Regions from separate parts of the Homo sapiens genome. Here region 2 is linked to region 1. The links come from fine-mapping of genetic effects on gene expression. A gene starts in region 1. The other region holds a variant in brackets. All regions are shown on one strand. Distances are between the middles of the regions.

What was found. PIP is the estimated chance that this variant, and not a neighbour inherited with it, causes the effect.
Region 2: its variant is the best candidate, but not a certain one, in a credible set for the expression of MOB4 in whole blood (INTERVAL, PIP 0.54).

Annotation. Positions count from the first base shown.
Region 1 is chr2:197,514,056-197,518,449 of GRCh38, forward strand. MOB4 (MOB family member 4, phocein) reads left to right here and starts at 2,011. Exons shown (of 8, transcript NM_015387.5): 1 at 2,011-2,091. The coding sequence starts at 2,032. All of the region lies in intron 2 of HSPE1-MOB4 (HSPE1-MOB4 readthrough), which reads left to right. RefSeq lists a silencer at 1,850-2,069.
Region 2 is chr2:197,613,847-197,618,240 of GRCh38, forward strand. RFTN2 (raftlin family member 2) reads right to left here. Exons shown (of 9, transcript NM_144629.3): 6 at 3,954-4,075; 7 at 2,030-2,133. Among named protein-coding and RNA genes, the nearest start is that of RFTN2, 60 kb to the right of the region's middle. The variant C/T (reference allele first, on the strand shown) is at 2,566.

The DNA.
Region 1 (4,394 bases):
CTGGGAAATGTAAACGTAATCCTTGCAGTAAGTGAGGCGAGTTATCTATAGACCAAGAGGCCTCCCTGGGACTCTGCTATCTCATAGACCCAACCCATCTCTCTAAGGGAGGCAACATTTACGTGTCACTTGTCCTAGGCTCTCGTTGCATTTAATACAAGTTGAGCATCCATAATCTGAAAAGTCCAGAATCTGAAATGCTCCCAAATCTGAAACTTTGAACATCCACATGATGCCACAGGTGGAAAATTCCATACCTGACCTTCTGTGACCGGTTGCAGTCAAAACTTTGTTTCACGCACAAAATTATTTGAAGTTTTATAGGCGCCTGCCGCCACGCCTGGCTAATTTTTGTATTTTTAGTAGTGATGGGATTTCACCATGTTGGCCAGGCTGGTCTGGAACTCCTGACCTCAAGTGATCTGCCCCCCTCAGCCTCCCAAAGTGCTGGGATTACAGGTGTGAGCCACCGCTCCCGGCCTATTTAAAGTATTGTATAAAAGTAACTTCAGGCTATGTGTGTAAGGTGTATAGGAAACAAATGCATTTCACATTTAAACTTAGGTTCCATCCCCAAGAAATCTCATTATGTATATGCAAATATTCTAAAATCCAAAATAATCAGAAATCTGAAAGTGTTTTGGTCCCAAACTTTAAGATGAGGGGTACTTAACCTGTATAAGAATTTGTGATTTGCACGTCTCTGTTGCTGGAGTCAAGGCAATTTGTAGTGAAGGACTGAGCCTTATCATACTTGTACATTAGTGCCTACCATATAGTGGGGCTTAATGAGTATCTGTTGAACGAATAATCTTTTCATATGTAGACGCTGGTTCTGGGAGGGCAAAATTAAGTCCCTATTCTTGAAGAGTTACCAGTCAATACATCTTCCAGAGAGAACCAACTTCCTGTTGTTAAACCCTTCAATGCCTAGTTCTAAGTCACTGACAATTACTCAGCTAGAGACCCACTCAACCTCTCCTCTCCTCTCAAATTCCATTTCTGGAAGCTGTTACATGGCCCTTCCCTCAGCATTCTCAATACACCTTCTATCTAGGGACACTTGATGTTTTCTTCTTTTGGAAATCATGCTACTGTATGCGTTTTTTACTTTTTGAACTGTCTTCCCATCTGCTATCCCAAGGCCTCCCTCACCCCAGATAAAAGATTCAAGGTTTCTAAGCAGGAAAAAAAGTTTGCGAAAATGCTGTGGTTTCTTAAGAGAGAACACTTAAAATTTGCAACAAAGGAAATGTGGAATCCTGTAAGATGTAAAACCCTCACCACCTGTCAAGGACTACTAATTTCCTCCTCCTGCTTCTGACTTGAAAAACACGAGCTAAATCTGTCTGCCTAACGCACAAAACCAGATGTCCACTCTTCATCTCACATAATTGACATCTGCGTCTTTTATCTACGTAAACAAACTTGTCATTGAAAAAGTCCTTGGCTTTGAAGTCGCCGGATGGCGTAAATAACACTGACACTCAAATCCCCCGTCTGATTTCAGATTGGGTCGATTTCACGCAGGTTCTATAGAATTTGCCAAGACTGCTGGCCTGTTTTCTACCCTGATTCCTTAGGTGGCTTCTGGGACAGAATTACGGTTCTCTAAGTATTTGCTTGCAGGTGGGTTTACTGAAACGGTCGCCACTATACGAAGTTCGTTCTTCCCGTGTAACTAACGAGAGCCCATACCAACGTGCAACGCAGCCGTGCACACTGCCGCAGCGGTCGCTGCGATCACGACCTTTCAAACCGCCCCGCAGCCCTCGCAAAGAGGCTCGTGGCGCCCGCCTTCCGGTGCCTCAGTCCCTGCCAGTAGCCACCCGACGCCGTCCGGCTGTTCCTCGTTCGCCCTCTCCCTCCGCCTAGCCCGCTTCTACCCGGACGGCTCCCGGCGCAGGCTGCAGCTGTTCCGTCAGCTGCCGCTCCTCCTCCCAGACGCAGAGCGCCGCTCTGCCCCGCCCCCCGCGCAGGCTGCCGTCCCTACATCCGGGTACCGACTCCAGCCGCCTAGACGCTGGCACTATGGTCATGGCGGAGGGGACGGCAGTGCTGAGGCGGAACAGGCCGGGCACCAAGGCGCAGGTACCATGTCTGCACTTTTCTTGTCGGGCAACTAGGTGCCGAGCAGTGCTGCGCCCGGAAGCTGGCCGCCACTGCGGGGAGGTTGGGCCGAGGCGGCAGGCGGGCGGGCTGGGGCACTGGTGCCCGGCCTGCTCTTCCGGAGCTGCAGCCCCTCAATTTGGCTGAGGCGGTGGCGGCCGCCGTGAGGCCTGCGGAGCTCCGACCCAGGGGTAGGCGTGAGGGGCGGGTGGGGTCTGCTGGTGGTACCTGCCTGCCGAAGCCCTGGGCTGCGAGCCTGTCAGCAGCAACGGCTTCTTCTCGCCTTGCCCCTGAGCCCCAGCTGACTAGCATTGGAGGGGCGCGACCAGCCTGGTGGAGACCCCCGGGGTTTCCTGAAGGTCGGGGCCGCTGAGGTGGGAGGGGGTGTAAACACAGCCTACCTCGACCCGGCGTCCAGTTCCTACCTGGCCTGGGAAGTACCTACCCGTTTCCTGCCATCCAGCTTGTCTAGCCGGATCCGGGTGCCGATATTCTCCTCCTTGTTTCCCTTTGACCACCTCTCCCTGCCGCTTTCCCTGGAGCTGTTCTCTGGTCCAGCAAGTTTTCATCACTAAGTTGTGACTTGTTAGATGTCATTCCTTGCTAATATGCGTGAAGCATAGTCAGAGAATGAACTGATTATAATTTTGTCAGCTTTTTTGTAGGGCATTATGTGTGGTAAATTGGTGCTTGATTAGGCATTGTTTCTTAGGGTTTGGAAAAGATGGGATGCCTCACATTAAAAATAAATAAATAAAATTGGCATCCAGACTTGAACTGATTAATTGCTAGCCGAAATGGCTTGCTATAGACTAGATGCTCTGAAATCGGAAGAGATGTGTTTATAAAATGTTAAAAAGTGATGCAAATGAAAATTGAAACAAAACAATCGTGGAGCTATGATTGTATGTCTGAGAATAGATTTTAATTTCTTATACAGAATTATGGAAAGAACACCTTTCGAAGGGGGCATACAGGTATTGATTACCTCCCCAGATTCATGTTACAGATAAGGAAACTGAAGCCCAAGAGAATTAAGTGGATTTGCCCAAGGATACATAGTCTCCTGATTCTTAATTCACTGGTGACCTGTTCTCTTTAACAAGCTGCTTCTAGTGCTGAATTTCAGAGAAAATTTTAAAGTCTTATTTTGGAGTCACATTAAGCTGTCAGTTATTCCTACTGACAGTTTTGTTTTCATACTACTGGAAATTTATCCGTTACATATGCTTGCTTTTTACCGTTTCCACACTTTTCTTCCTCATGCTCTTTTCTCAGATACCTTTACATCTTATTCTGTGGAAACATTGTTTCTGATTACATTTTTATGTTCAGAAGTAGACTTTTCTGTTCATATTCTGAGAGTCATCTCATTTATTCATAAGTTCTTAATTTTGAAAGGTTAGAAAATAAAATATTTAATATCGTAACATACTTGCTATGTTGCTGTAAGTCACATAGAAGAAAACTTATTGTCTTTTTTTTTCACATTGTCATGGATCAAGGTTGTTAGATAAAATATAACAGAAAAAGGATAAAAAATGAAAAAGACTGCTTACGCCGTAGTTTGTCCTATCTTGTTTATCACATGAATTTCGTTTAGTGAAATGGATCTGTTCTAAAATGATATATTTAGAACCGTATCTCCTTCCCTATTGGGTCAAAAGAAAAAAAATTAAAAACTATAATAGAGGGCTGGGTGCGGTGGCTCACGCCTGTAATCCCAGCACTTTGGGAGGTGGAGGCAGGCGGATCATCTGAGTTCAGGAGTTCAAGACCAGCCTGGCCAACACGGTGAAACCCCGTCTCTACTAAAAATACAAAAAATTAGCTGGGCGTGGTGGCGGGCGCCTGTAATCCCAGCCACTCGGTAGGCTGAGGCAGGAGAATCGCTTGAACCCGGGAGGCGGAGGTTGCAGTGAGCCGGAATCGCGCCATTGCACTCCAGCCTGGGTAACAAGAGCAAAACTCGGTCTCAAACAAACAAACAAAAAACTATAGGAGAGTAGGTGGAGTATCTTCCTACATTAAAAAAAAAGTTGGTTAGACTGGAATATAGGCACATAGTTGGTTTTCTTTTTTCTTTTTCTTTCTTTCTTTCTTTTTTTTGTTTTTTTCTTGAGACAGAGTTTCTCTCTTGTTGCCCCCAAGCTGGAGTGCAATGGTGCGATCTCGGCTCACTGCAACCTCCACCTCCCGAGTTCAAGCGATTCTTCTGCCTCAGCCTCCCGAGTAGCTGGGATTACAGGCGCGTGCCACCACGCCCAGCTAATTTTTTGCAGAAA
Region 2 (4,394 bases), 100 kb after region 1:
TAGTGAGCCTTGTTGCATAATGGCAATTAATGTTAAAATTACATTTTTCTGCTATCTTCTATACAGAGTTAGTAGCATCTTCCTAAATGGAAATCTGCTAAATAGTGATGATGCTGCCCTCTAATCTCTTTAGTATTTGATGATCCCATCCAACTTTGACAGTTTAAAATGTCTCTTCTTTTTAATATTCCTACAGAACCTATAGACTAAGACACCTCATCTAGCCCTTGATTAGTTACTGTATTATATTACACAATACATAAGCTTGATCTGCCCTGACCAGAATGTAAGTCCCTTGTTTTGTACATATGAAACGTAAGCTTAACCAGCTCACAAGATCCTTCAGGGCCAGAAACCATGTACAGCTTCCACATATTTTTATTTATTGATTGACTTTTTGCCTTTTAAATTTGATTTTTAAAATTTAAAATTCAGAATGGCGTGGCAGAGATAAGAGAAGGAGCATCTGAATGCTGAGAAGAGTTTGGCTGGAGATGGTTGGAGAGGAGATCGGCTGCTGGACGGTCAAACTCCGGAAGATGATCATCTTCCCACTGCATCCCACCTCTACCCTCAATAAAACCTGCACAATCACTGTCCTCAATTCCCTGTGCAACTTGGTTCTTCCTGGACGCTGGACAAGGACCTAGGTACTGAGAGGACACTGAGCTGGTTAACACTTAAGCCCTCTGCAGATGGCAAAACTAAAAGATCACTGTAACACATGCCTACTTGGGCTTTGGGAGTCACAGGCACCCACCCCTAGACGCTACCATGGGGCCGGAGCCCCACAGCACTCACCCCAGCTCCTGCACCTGCCCATCTGTGTGCTTCCCCTCCTGTAAGTGGTTTGAGCATGCAGAGGGTGAACAAACAAGCCACACCCCTGTCACACATCCTGCAAGGTTGAGGGCGGGGGTGTCATGGAATTCTCCTGTTTTGTGAAGACTGAATCTTGAGAATTATTACTATTCTGTTATTTGACAGATATGTCACAGAGTACAAAAGGCTGGGAAATCATGCTTCAAGGAGTCATCACTCAATTTGAGAACAGTTACTATAGAGCTCTGGGAAGAAAAGTAGATTAATTGCTTTGCTTACTTCAAACATTCCTTTTTTGTTCTTTAAACTTGAGTTTCTTTACTTTATATCCACCTTAATTCCTTTCCCTACCCGAAGAAGGTGTGGCTTTTCAGATAAAGCCATGCCAATCAAAGGTTTTTAAATGTTGTGGGGTACTGGGATACTGGACAGGGCTAAGTTGCTAAACCGGGAAGGCCAGAAAAGGTGAGTGAAGTGGGTTAGACTAAGGAAGGGGAAGTTGCTTTCCTTAGTCACACCTGCAAATCACTCAGAATGTTGAACCATAATTGACTCTGCTAAAAGGGAAGGCCTAGTTGGTACTGTGCTGTCCTCTGCAGGTAGTCACCTGCCCAGGCAGGACAGCCTTAGCAGTCAGTCATTTCCTGGATGCCAAAGCGGGCAGAGGACACATCTCTGGGTCCCAGGAATAGCAAAGCATTTTACATAATGACTTACTTGGTCTCTGTTTCCCTCTCTCAAAAAAGTAAGATTCAATTTTTCCTTTCCAGGAAAGTTAGTAAAAGGAGAAAAGGAAAAGGAAAGTTAGTACTTACAAAATATTGGCATTTGGTTCTAATGTAGGCATTTATTTTAATGGAAACAGCTACCAAGTCCATGTGCCAAGGGGAACTAACTCACCACACTGGAGGGGAGGTGGCAGAAGCGCTCCTCCATCCTGCTCACTCTGGAACCCTACTGTGTCCTAAACCTGGCTGTGGGCTGGGGTGAGAACAGTTTTGGATATGTGCTGCAGAGCCTAACAGCTTATACATCTATAATGCCAAGGACTATATTTACTAACCTCTAAGGTCCATAAAATCAAATTCGAAGCTCAGTGTAATGTTTTCTGTAGGCATTAAACAAATATTTGTTGAATTGAACTATCTAACAGATGAAGTTATATATTAGAATTAAATGATAGTATGTAAGGATACTTTTGCCTTACCTGTCATGTCTCAATACAGGTGTGGGCAACACGCTTGTCAGAAGCCATCCGAATTCAGCCAGAGTGTGCAGCAGAGGGCCATAATCTGTTTTGATTTCACATCCCTGCATGAATAAGTATAAGAGCTCATAGTCTAATGGCAAAGACAACCAACTACACAATTACAACAAAGGGTGATGCGTGTTAGGATGAGGGGAGTTCACTTTCATCCGCTGCAGCCTTCCTGGGCTTCATGTTCTGCTCTGCTTCCTTCTGATAATTGAACCAAGTTAGAAACACTAGTAATGGAGAGAGGTTTCCATCCCGTTGTCTGAAGTTTGGGCCTTCCTTTGGTCTTGTTAGGGCAGTGGTTCTCGAAATTTAATACATGGGGTTGGGGAGCTGGGAATCTGCATTTTATTTTATTTTATTTTATTTTATTTTATTTTATTTTAAAGAGAGGGTCTCATTCCTACATCCAGGCTAGGGTGCAGTGGCACAGTCATAACTCACTTTAACCTCAATCTCCTGGGCTCAAACTATTCTCCTGCCTCTGC[C/T]GCCTGAGTAACTGGGACTACAGGTGCATGACACTATGCCTGGTTAATTTTAAAATTTTTTGTAGAGATGGGGTCTCACTATGTTGCCCAGGCTGGTCTTGAACTCCCGGGCTCAAGTTATCCTCCCATTTCACCTTCCTAAAGTGCTGGGGTTACAGACGTGAGCCACTGTGTCAGGCAGAGGCTGCATTTTAACACGAGTTCCTTAGCGGATTTGGATCCAAGAAGTTTCTAGAACACATTTCAGAAACATGGGTCTAGGGACCAGGAAGTGAGGACAAGAGTGGAGAGTGACAATAGTGGTATTGAAGATGAGAGGCGCTTGGGTGTGGGGAGTCTTTTCACTGCTTTTTTCTTAATTTGGAATTGAGTTTTGCTAAGAGCTCTACCTCTTTCCTCAAATCCTTTTTCCCCACTCAATGGGTTTTCTAGTTTCTTTGAAAATGGGCTATGTCTCTTTAACCTGTGTAAGGTCAGAAAGGTAAAAGTATCCCTGAAACAGCCTGTCAGGGAGGGCCTCAAACACAAAACAGAATATACCTGAATTCAGTGTGTACACCTCAAAGACAGTCCATTCAGTGACATCTGAATTCAGGGTGCACAACATCAGCAGCAATGTCATCTCTGTTTGTGAAGGACAATGCTGTGTGTACATATTTGGCCTGGCGAGAGAGAGAACATCTTTTGGATATTTTTGCCTTTGAAAGTCATTCATAAGGTTAAAAAAAACCTCAGTCACATTGGTTGATTGGAGATAAAACACTAGTTGAGTGACCAAATTTTTTTCTTTCAATCAGTTGTCACAGAATGCTGTAAAGAGAAGCTCAGTGCCAGGCGATGTTTTTTGGCTTAAAATTTTTGGGAACTTACTGCTGCTTATGCATAGTTAATTATTTCTCTATCTTGCAAAAACATTTAACACTGGATAAAGCAAATTACCTTTTCACAAATCCGAAAGAAGTTTGTTCATGCATTTGTAATGAGATTCTAAACACTAAACAAATATGTGTTTAAGGATACTGCATGTGCCAGGCACTGAAGATCTTTAACATGTAAAATAAAATATATATAGCCTGGGCAACATGGCGAGACCCTGTCTCTACAAAAAATACAAAAAAATTAGATGAGTATGGTGGTGCAGGCCTGTAGTCCCAGCTACCTGGGAGGCTGAGGTTGGAGAATCACCTGAGCCAGGGGAAGTTGAGGCTGCAGTGAGCTGTGATGGTGCCACTGCACTCCAGCCTGGGTAACAGAGTAAGGCCCTGACTCAAAAAAACAAAAACAAAAACAAACAAACAAACAAATGAAAAACCCAAACCAAACATATATATATATTATATATTATATTTATATATGTAAAGCTAAATTGTCAGAAAACTGCAGCTCACCTCAATAACAGTCCATTGTTCTACTACGATGGCATCATTTCCTTTCCTACTAGAACCTGGAACTCCAGAACCTTCTTCTTCATAGATAAAAAATCCTTCCAAAGATTTAGGCAAATGTTCCCCTGTGAGGAAGAGGGTACAATTAAGAAGGGTTGTAAATACTAAGTGGCTCATAAAACCATCTAAATCCTTAAATAACTCATATAGGAAACTGAAGGAAAAACATTTCAATTAAAAAACATTTGTTGCCCCCTCCCCCTCCCCCTCTCCCTCTCCCTCTCCCTCTCCCCACGGTCTCCCTCTCCCTCTCTTTCCACGGTCTCCCTCTGATGCCCAGCCGAAGCTGGACGGTACTGCTGCCATCTCGGCTCACTGCAACCTCCCTGCCTGATTCTCCTGCCTCAGCTTGCCGAGTGCCTGCGATTGCAGGCGCGCGCCGCC